3 linked regions of the Homo sapiens genome follow. The protein of the gene in region 1 interacts with the protein of each later gene in a pairwise test. Each region holds a gene or a part of one and is shown in the gene's direction. Other genes may lie near its edges. The genes, in order: TRIM69, ZNF483 and WASHC1.

Evidence for each region.
Region 2: the proteins of TRIM69 (region 1) and ZNF483 interact in a two-hybrid assay, tested with the Homo sapiens proteins (one large-scale study listed by BioGRID).
Region 3: the proteins of TRIM69 (region 1) and WASHC1 interact in a two-hybrid assay, tested with the Homo sapiens proteins (one large-scale study listed by BioGRID).

The regions. Positions count from the first base shown.
Region 1 is NC_000015.10:44,739,528-44,743,182, forward strand, and holds part of TRIM69 (E3 ubiquitin-protein ligase TRIM69), read left to right. Parts: intron 1-3,655.
Region 2 is NC_000009.12:111,545,577-111,549,231, forward strand, and holds part of ZNF483 (zinc finger protein 483), read left to right. Parts: 3' UTR 1-3,655. UniProt on the Homo sapiens protein: May be involved in transcriptional regulation.
Region 3 is NC_000009.12:22,887-26,541, reverse strand, and holds part of WASHC1 (WASH complex subunit 1), read left to right. Parts: exon of another isoform or gene 1-1,211; intron 1,212-1,534; exon of another isoform or gene 1,535-1,537; coding exon of another isoform or gene 1,538-1,542; coding exon 1,543-1,691; exon of another isoform or gene 1,692-3,655. UniProt on the Homo sapiens protein: Acts as a component of the WASH core complex that functions as a nucleation-promoting factor (NPF) at the surface of endosomes, where it recruits and activates the Arp2/3 complex to induce actin polymerization, playing a key role in the fission of tubules that serve as transport intermediates during endosome sorting.

The DNA.
Region 1 (3,655 bases):
ATACTGTGCTTTTCCGACGGGCTTAAAGAACGGTGCACCAGGAGATTATATCCTGCACCTGGCTCGGAGGGCCCTACGCCCATGGAGTCTCGCTGATTGCTAGCACAGCAGTCTGAGATCAAACTGCAAGGCGGCAGCGAGGCTGTGGGAGGGGCGCCCACCATTGCCCAGGCTTGCTTAGGTAAACAAAGCAGCCGGGAAGCTCGAACTGGGTGGAGCCCACCACAGCTCAAGGAGGCCTGCCTGCCTCTGTAGGCTCCACCTCTGGGGGCAGGGCACAGACAAACAAAAAGACATCAGTAACCTCTGCAGACTTAAATGTCCCTGTCTGACAGCTTTGAAGAGAGCAGTGGTTCTCCCAGCACGCAGCTGGAGATCTGAGAATGGGCAGACTGCCTCCTCAAGTGGGTCCCTGACCCCTGACCCCCTAGCAGCCTAACTGGGAGGCACCCCCAAGTAGGGGCAGACTGACACCTCACATGGCCGGGTACTCCTCTGAGACAAAACTTCCAGAGGAATGATCGACAGCAGCATTCGCGGTTCACGAAAATCCACTGTTCTGCAGCCACCGCTGCTGATACCCAGGCAAACAGGGTCTGGAGTGGACCTCTAGCAAACTCCAATAGACCTGCAGCTGAGGGTCCTGTCTGTTAGAAGGAAAACTAACAAACAGAAAGGACATCCATACCAAAAACCCATCTGTACATCACCATCGTCAAAGACCAAAAGTAGATAAAACCGCAAAGATGGGGAAAAAACAGAGCAGGAAAACTGGAAACTCTAAAAAGCAGAGCGCCTCTCTTCCTCCAAAGGAACGCAGTTCCTCACCAGCAACAAAACAAAGCTGGATGGAGAATGACTTTGACAAGTTGAGAGAAGAAGGCTTCAGATGATCCAACTACTCCGAGCTACAGGAGGAAATTCAAACCAAAGGCAAAGAAGTTAAAAACTTTGAAAAGAATTTAGATGAATGTATAACTAGAATAACCAATACAGAGAAGTGCTTAAAGGAGCTGATGGAGCTTGCTGTATTCAGGAAACCCATCTCACATGCAGAGACACACATAGGCTCAAAATGAAAGGATGGAGGAAGATCTACCAAGCCAATGGAAAACAAAAAAAGGCAGGGGTTGCAATCCTAGTCTCTGATAAAACAGACTTTAAACCAACAAAGATCAAAAGAGACAAAGAAGGCCATTACATAATGGTAAAGGGATCAATTCAACAAGAAGAGCTAACTATCCTAAATATATATGCACCCAATACAGGAGCACCCAGATTCATAAAGCAAGTCCTGAGTGACCTACAAAGAGACTTAGACTCCCACACAATAATAATGGGAGATTTTAACACCCCACTGCCAACATTAGGCAGATCAACGAGACAGAAAGTTAACAAGGATACCCAGGAATTGAACTCAGCTCTGCACCAAGCGGACCTAATAGACATCTACAGAACTCTCCACCCTAAATCAACAGAATATACATTTTTTTCAGCACCACACCACACCTATTCCAAAATTGACCACATAGTTGGAAGTAAAGCTCTCCTCAGCAAATGTAAAAGAACAGAAATTATAACAAACTGTCTCTCAGACCACAGTGCAATCAAACTAGAACTCAGGATTAAGAAACTCACTCAAAACCGCTCAACTACATGGAAACTGAACAACCTGCTCCTGAATGACTACTGGGTACCTAACAAAATGAAGGCAGAAATAAAGATGTTCTTTGAAACCAATGAGAACAAAGACACAACATACCAGAATCTCTGGGACACATTCAAAGCAGTGTGTAGAGGGAAATTTATAGCACTAAATGCCCACAAGAGAAAGCAGGAAAGATCCGAAATTGACACCCTAACATCACAATTAAAAGAACTAGAAAAGCAAGAGCAAACACATTCAAAAGCTAGCAGAAGGCAAGAAATAACTAAAATCAGAGCAGAACTGAAGGAAAAAGAGACACAATAAACCCTTCAAAAAGTTAATGAATCCAGGAGCTGGTTTTTTGAAAGGATCAACAAAATTGATAGACTGCTAGCAAGACTAATAAAGAAGAAAAGAGAGAAGAATCAAATAGAAGCAATAAAGAATGATAAAGGGGATATCACCACTGATCCCACAGAAATACAAACTACCATCAGAGAATACTACAAACACCTCTATGCAAATAAACTAGAAAATCTAGAAGAAATGGATAAATTCTTCGACACATACACCCTCCCAAGACTAAACCAGGAAGAAGTTGAATCTCTGAATAGACCAATAACAGGCTCCGAAATTGTGGCAATAATCAATAGCTTACCAACCAAAAAGAGTCCAGGACCAGATGGATTCACAGCCGAATTCTACCAGAGGTACAAGGAGGAACTGGTACCATTCCTTCTGAAGCTATTCCAATCAACAGAAAAAGAGGGAATCCTCCCTAACTCATTTTATGAGGCCAGCATTATCCTTATACCAAAGCCGGGCAGAGACACAACCAAAAGAGAGAATTTTAGACCAATATCCTTGATGAACATTGATGCAAAAATCCTCAATAAAATACTGGCAAACTGAATCCAGCAGCACATCAAAAAGCTTATCCACCATGATCAAGTGGGCTTCATCCCTGGGATGCAAGGCTGGTTCAATATACGCAAATCAATAAATGTAATCCAGCATATAAACAGAACCAAAGACAAAAACCACATGATTATCTCAATAGATGCAGAAAAGGCCTTTGACAAAATTCAACAACGCTTCATGCTAAAAACTCTCAATAAATTAGGTATTGATGGGATGTATCTCAAAATAATAAGAGCTATCTATGACAAACCCACAGCCAATATCATACTGAATGGGCAAAAACTGGAAGCATTCCCTTTGAAAACTGGCACAAGACAGGGATGCCCTCTCTCACCACTCCTATTCAACATAGTGTTGAAAGTTCTGGCTAGGGCAATTAGGCAGGAGAAGGAAATAAAGGGTATTCAATTAGGAAAAGAGGAAGTCAAATTGTCCCTGTTTGCAGATGACATGATTGTATATCTAGAAAACCCCATTGTCTCAGCCTAAAATCTCCTTAAGCTGATAAGCAACTTCAGCAAAGTCTCAGGACACAAAATCAATGTACAAAAATCACAAGCATTCTTATACACCAATAACAAACAGAGAGCCAAATCATGAGTGAACTCCCATTCACAATTGCTTCAAAGAGAATAAAATACCTAGGAATCCAACTTACAAGGGACGTGAATGACCTCTTCAAGGAGAACTACAAACCACTGCTCAATGAAATAAAAGAGGACACAAACAAATGGAAGAACATTCCACGCTCATGGATAGGAAGAATCAGTATCGTGAAAATGGCCATACTGCCCAAGGTAATTTATAGATTCAATGCCATCCCCATCAAGCTACCAATGACTTTCTTCACAGAATTGGAAAAAACTACTTTAAAGTTCATATGGAACCAAAAAAGAGCCCGCATCGCCAAGTCAATCCTAAGCCAAAAGAACAAAGCTAGAGGCATCATGCTACCTGACTTCAAACTATACTACAAGGCTACAGTAACCAAAACAGCATGGTACTGGTACCAAAACAGAGATAGAGATCAATGGAACAGAACAGAGCCCTCAGAAATAATGCCGCATATCTACAACTATCTAACCT
Region 2 (3,655 bases), on another chromosome or scaffold:
GTCCAACCTCTAATCCCAGGCACCCACTACTCAGTCGACTTTGTGTCTCTAGAGTTGTCTTTTTCTGTACATTTTATGTTATATGTGATCTTTCTGTGTTTTTTTCATTAATGTGTTTTAAGTTCATCCATGTTGTAACATACTAGTACTTTATTCCTTTTTATCATAAATAATATTACATTATGTGGATGCTTCGTGCATTCACTAGTTGAAGAACATTTGAGGTTTTTCCAGTTTTTGCCTGTTAGGAATAATGCTGCTTTGAACATTGGTATGCAAGTGTTTTGAACGTTAGTGTACAAGTCTTTGTGTGGACATGTTTTCATTTTTCTTAGGCAGATGCCTGAGGGGAGTTGCTAGGTCATACGGTAAATTTTCATTTAACTTTTTTAGGAAACTGCCAAATTGTTTTCCAAAGTGACCGCATTATTTTACATTCTGACTAGTAATGTGTGGGGCTTCCCATTTCTCTACAGTCTTGCCAGTCATTGTTGTCTGTTTTTTAAAAATTATGCCCATCCTAGCGTTTGAAATGATATTCCTTTGTGGTTTTAACTTTGATTTTCCTGATGGCGAATAATGTCAAAGCATCTTTTATGTGCTCTTCAGCCATTCATGTATCTTAGTGAAATGTTTATTCAGATTTTTTGTCCATTTAAAATTGGAGTTTGCTGATACTGTGTTGTAGTCCTTTTTATTCTGGATATAAGTCCTTTATCCAATATGAACTTTCTAAATACCATGTACTAGCTACAGAGAGCAGCCCAAACTCTGTTGGATAATATTTATCAAAGTCTTGATTTCAGTAGTTAAGTCTGTATAATTGCCTGCAGGACATTCAGTCTGGCCCATCACCCAAATATTTAAATTCACTTTTGGATTAAGTCAGATTATCAAAAGGCTTTAAACGTCTTTTGATTCATTATAGGATTGCTTTTATGAAGAGCACTGTGACACATTTTACTTTAAAATGAAGTCCTTGCTTTAAATAATGTTTCCTCTTAATGAGCGTGTATAAATTTTTTTCATGTCACAGGACAAGGCAAGGTTTTGGTCAATAAAGTCATTTTATTTATTTTAGAATTATTTTTTAATGTAGTAAGATACATATAGCTTAAAATGAACCATTTAAACACTTTTTGGTTATACAGCTCAATAGCATTTAGATAGATGCACATTTTGTGCAGTCATCACCACTATCCATCTCCAGAACTTTTTCATCATCCCAAACTGAAACTCTGTACTCCTTAAACAGTAACTCCCCATTTTCTCCTCCTCAGGCTCCTGGTAACCACTGTTCTACTTCCTGTCTGTACAAATTTGACTGTTCTAATTACTTGGTATGAATGGAATCATACAATATTTGCCCTGTTGTGTTTGGCTTATTCCACTTAGCATTATGTTTTCAAGGTTCGGCCGTGTTGTAGCACATATCAGAATTTAATTCCTTTTTAAGGCTGAATAATATTCCATTTTACTTGTATACCACATTTTGTTTATCCTTTTATCTGCCAGTGAACATTTAAGTTGTTTGCACCATTTTGGCTATCAAGAATAACATTGCTATAATCAGTGGTGCTTTCTGTTCTTTTAAGTATATGCCTAGAAATAGAATTGCTGGATCTTATGATGATTCTATATTTAACTTCTTGAGGAAGTGCAACTACACTATTTTAAATTCCCACCAGCTATGTACAAGGGTTTCAGTATCCCCGCCCTTGCTAACACTTATTTTCTATTTCTTTTTTATAATAGACATCCTAATGGGTTTGAAGTGGCATCTTATTCTAGTTTTGTTTTGCATTTCCCTAGTGATTAGTGATGTTAACTGTCTTTTTATGTGCTTATTGACCATTTGTATCTCTTCTTTGGAGAAATGTTTATTGAAGTCCTTTGCCCATTTTTTAATTGGTTTTGTTGGCGTTGTTGTTTAGTTGTAGAAGTTCTTAATATATCCAGAATATATAAAGAACTTTTCAGATAAATGATTTGCAAATACTTTCTTCCATTCTGTGTGGGTTGCCTTTTCATTCTATTCCTAATGCCCTTTGAAAGAAGGTTTTAATTTTGGTGAAGTTTAATTTTTCTATTTTTTCTTTTGTTTCCTGTGCTTTTCTGGTCATACCCAAGAAACCATGGCCAAATCCAATGTCATGAAGCTTTTCTCCTATTCTAGGAGTTTTATAGTTTCAGGTCTTATGTTTAAGTCTTTTAACCATTTTGATTTTTATGTATGGTAAAGGGTCCATCTTCATTCTTTTGCATGCGAATATCCAGTTTTCCCAGCCCCATCTGTTGAAGAGACTATCCTTTCCACATCATGTATTCTTTGCACTCTTGTCAAAGATCATTTGACCATATACATGCATGTTTATTTCTGGCTGTCTGCTCTGTTTCTTTGGTCTATATGTTTGTCTTTATGCCAGTACCATGCTATTTTGATTACTCCAGTAATGTTTTGTAATCAGGATTACACTACGTTTCCTGTAGTATGTTTTTGAAATGAGGAAGTGTGAGGCCTCCAGCTTTGTTCTTTCCCAAATTGTTTTGGCTATTTGGGGGTCCTTAAGATTTCAAATGAATTTTAGGATGGTTTGTTTGTTTTTGTGGAAAATGGCATGAAGATTGGGCTTGCATTGAATTTGTAGATCGCTTTGGGTAATGTGGACATACTAACAATAACAAACATTACAGTCTGTGAACCCCAGGTGTCTTTCCATGTATTTGTGCCGTCTTTAATTTTTTCAGCAATGTGTTACAGTTGTCATTGTACAAGTCTTTTGCCTCCTTGGTCAAGTTTATTCTTGAGTATTTTATGTTTTTGATGCTGTTGTAAATGGGTCTTTGTTAGTGAAGCATAACTGAGTTTTGAGTGTTGATTTTGTATCTTGCAACTTTGCTGAATTTGTTTATTAGTCATAATAGTTTCTTGTGAAATTTTTGGGATTTTTAAATATAAGATTATGGCATCTGCAAATAGATAATTTTTCCTTCTTCCTAATTTGGATGGCTTTAACTTGCCAATGGCTCTAGCTAGGACTTCCAGTACTGTGTTGAATACAAGTAGCAAAAGCAGGCATCTGTGCCTTTTCCTGAAATGCTTTCTATTTTATATCATTCCGTATGATGTTAGCTGTGGTCTTTTCATATTTGACCTTTATTATGTTAAGGTAATTTCCTTTTATTGATAAATTCTTGTTTGAAGGACAGTTTTGCTGTATATAGAATTCTCAGTTGACAGTTTTTTTTTTTTTCTTTCTGCATTAAGAGTATAACAACGCCACAGCCTTCTGGCTTCCAAGGTTTTTGATGAGCAATCAACAGTCTCACTGAGGATTTCTTTTATGTGATGATTTGCTTCTCTCTTGATGCTTTTGAGATTCTCCTTTTGTCTTTGGATTTCAGCAGCTTGATTATAACTTGTCTTGGTGTCTCTGTGGGGTGAGGGTAGGAGTCAATTGCAGTGCTTGTTGCCATAGTTCAGAACCTGCACCACAAAGACCCTTCCAGTTCTGTAGAGTGGTTTATTGCTTTATTATCAGTGCAATAGAGAGTCACTGAGTCACTGGAGGTTCTCTGTGTGTGTGAGTGTATAAATAAAGATTTAATTTTGTTTTGCTCTTTTGTTTTCCCCTCGGAATAGTTTATCAGATGA
Region 3 (3,655 bases), on another chromosome or scaffold:
GCACAGGAAATATCTTGCATCTTTACCCCCTTTGTGATCTTACATATGGGAGAACTGAGGCACAGAAATAAGTTAGGACAGCCAGCAAACTTGCATCAGTATAAATACAAAGAAGGGGAGGGAGGAACATGCTTGAAAGGGGTGTGCTGGTCTCAGAGGGTTGGGTTTCTCAGTTGGCTGGGCATCAGCTGGCCATGCTTTAGTTATTTGATGGGAGGAAAAATAAGTGGGAGGTGAGGAGTAACTCCTGGGCTCTGATGAGTATTCAAGGCAAGTACAGATCTGGAAAGCCTGTATGCAAAGGAGGAACTCACTGAAAAGTGCTGGCCTGAGGAGGGCAGAAGGGAGGGCTGGGGAAGCCAGCAGCGGGAGCAAAGGAGTAGGCTCCAACTGGGTGAAGATGTTGGTGTGGTGCGTTATGTAAAATATACAAATTATTATTGGAAATAACCACGTCTCAGCAGTGCTAGTTCTCAGTTTGGAGAATGGGAAATCGAAAGGATCAGATTCAGAGACGGCAACTTACTCAAGGTCACAGCATTTTAAACCCAAGTGAAATCTCCTAGGCCCTTCATGCCACACTCATCCATCCATACCTACTTGTGTTGCAACCAAGGGCCCCACTGTAGTGCCTAGGGGAGCAGGTCTAGGGCACAGTGCCAGGCCTGATTAATGTCTTCCTTACCATTTTCCAGTGAGGGGCTGTGATTAGGCCTATTTATAGGGGCCTGGTCCCTTAATATTCTGCCTGGTGCATCTCTTGCCAATCAAATCAGTGCTGTCTGCAGTGTGATTGCTGCTTTAGTGGCACCAGGGAGAGGAGTTAATTAAACCCAATATAAATAGACTCTGCCCTCACTTTGCAATTCCAGGAGTGTTTTTCCTTCCTGTCCTCCACCCCCACAGGCACCTCTTTCCTCTTGTCCCCCTAAGCTCTAGCCTGGGTGAGCAGGGCTGGATACTCCTATACCTAGAGTCACTAGCCACTGCCCAGTCTGTTTCAGGAGCAGGCCTCAGATTCCTCAGGGGTTAAAGTGGGAAGAACCCGTGTGTGCACATTTTTTGTGCTTTTCCAGAACTGTGTACCATTTGGCAGTTGATCAGGCAATCTCCCCTGCTACCCCATTTCTACCCCTTTGTTTCCAGCCTCTTTTTTCCTCTGCAACCAAGGTTTCTTGTTTATCCAAGGTGGGGAGCTGAACTGAGACAAGGTATGGAAAGGGTGCCTGGCAGGTAGCAAGCACCTTGTAGGGGGTCAGAAATGTTGCACCTTCTCTGAACTCCTCCATTGACCCTACAGATTCCCCAGTCCCGGGCCCTGCCCTTTCCCTCATTCACTCAGCAGGCATCAGCAGAGTCCCATCTATGCGCTCCTGGCCTCTCAGCAAATGCTCTGTCCCCTACTCCCCTATCTGTGCAGGCTGAAGCTATGTGCATAGTTGGGATGAGGGCTGTGTTGTCTCAACACCACGCTGCCCTGTGGTGGGGGCGTGCCGTTGGTCGTGGGTGGCTCTGACGCTCCGGCTCCGACCCACAGGCACCATGACTCCTGTGAGGATGCAGCACTCCCTGGCAGGTCAGACCTATGCCGTGCCCTTCATCCAGCCAGACCTGCGGCGAGAGGAGGCCGTCCAGCAGATGGCGGATGCCCTGCAGTACCTGCAGAAGGTCTCTGGAGACATCTTCAGCAGGTGGGTGCTGCCACTCACCCCCACCTGATGAGAGGGCCATCCCTGTCCTGGGCAATCCCAGCAACACACCCTCTGGGAGCAGCCCCCTTGGGGAATCCCGGTCCTGGGGAACCCATCTGGCTTCCCTGTGTGGGAGGGGCTGAAGTGAGAGCCCAACTTGGAAGCTTTTACTCCTGGGAGTCCGAGAGCTCACTCCCTTCCACCCCACTTAGCCTCCTGGTTTCCTGTGGTGGCTCTGCTCTCACAACTCATGCTTTTCCTCCCATTGGAGGGCCTATTCCTTCACGTTTTCCTGCAGCCAACAAATATTTACCCAGCAGTGCTCGTGTGCAAGGCAGTGTGGGAATCTCTATATATCCAGCCACGGATAAGGCAACATACCTCTCCACCTGGAGCGCACATTCTGGCAGGAGAGAAAGACCTAAATAAGCAATAGATGATTAGTTCTTCAATAACAGTTGTGACAAGGTCTATTGATAATATTTTGTAATCACTAATATTCATATAAACCGTGCACAACCATTGATTTGAGTGCATTAACTCACACTTCATGAGCAGGCACTGCCGTCATCTCATTTTATAGATGAGGAAACTGAGGCACAGAAGGGCTGAGAGACCTGGCCTAGTGACAGAGCCAGGATTCAAAGCCATAGATCATGGCCCCGGGTTATGTAGGTTATTACTGCATCTGTTCAGGGGAGATGGGGTACTGTGAGGCTCGTCATGGGAAGCCTGGCTTGGTCTCAGGTCAGGGAAGGCAGATGTGAGGAAATGACATTTATGGTAAAGTCTGAGGGTTGAGTGGGTAGGTTGGGAAGAACATTCCAGAAAGAAGCACATGAACTACAGCCTGGAGGTGGAGGACCTAAAAGGAAGCCAGCATGGCTGGAGCACGGAGTGGCCATTGAGGGAGGCGAGCTGGAGGGCTGCAGCTTCTTGTATTGGCAGTGCTGACCTCGCACAGTCCTTGGGCTCCAGTGACTTCACTCAGTGTTTATCTAACATGAGTGAGTGAATGGTGTTTGCTGTTTTTTTGGTAAAGGTCCCAGGGGTTGTCGGGTACACAGGTCCTGTCTTTGGCCATAAGCAAACTGAAATGAGGCTTGGTCTCCTTCCCAGGATCCCACACCATGTCTCACATGGTAGACCCCAGTGGGAAGTATGTGACTGCCTGACTCAGGTGCCTCTCGTGGTCCAAGCCATCCCTGCCCTGTCCCTTCCCTGGTTGTCGCCAGACCTGGAGCCCCTGCTCCTTCACTTTGCAGCCTCCTCTTCTGTCACCAACTGGGAACCCACCTCTTCCTGAAAGTCCTCCCCCACTGACTCACCGGCTTGCCCCGAGTTTGTCAAGAATGTCTCAGTAACCAGGGGACACACAGTGAAGTGACTGAGGGGTTACCTTGGAGTTGATGCCTTGGCTCAGATCCAGCTCCCCTGTTTTCTTCCTCTGTAACCTTGGGCAACCCAACCCCTCTAAGCCTCGGTGTTCTCATTTGTGAAGTTGTGGTAATAATGGTAGCTTCCTGGTAGAATTATTTTAAATATTAAATTAATCAAAACATGCAAAGGAATGGAACAGTGCCTGGCACCTAGGAAGCCTTCAGGAAATGCTATCTCTTCCCTGTTGATAATCTTGACCCGTACACTGCCTTTGGTTGCCATTCATAAACCTGCCACCAATAGTAACAAAGTGCTGGATGCACCTTTTGTGCTTATCTTTGTGCTAAATGTGCCCGAGGGACACCTAGGGAAGAGGATGCAGGTCTTTAAGAGCCATCAGCTCCAGATTATGGCCACCCCATGTCCAGCACTTAGAATGGAGGCCAAAACCATTCCCTCGGAAATTGTGTTTCCTTGCCAAGATGGGGACTGCGTGGTTGCCCTTCTCTGAGGGCAGCGCTGGATTTTTGGCGTCTTTCCTTTCCTGTCCTGGTACTTGGCACCTTGTAGACAGTTGCATGTCC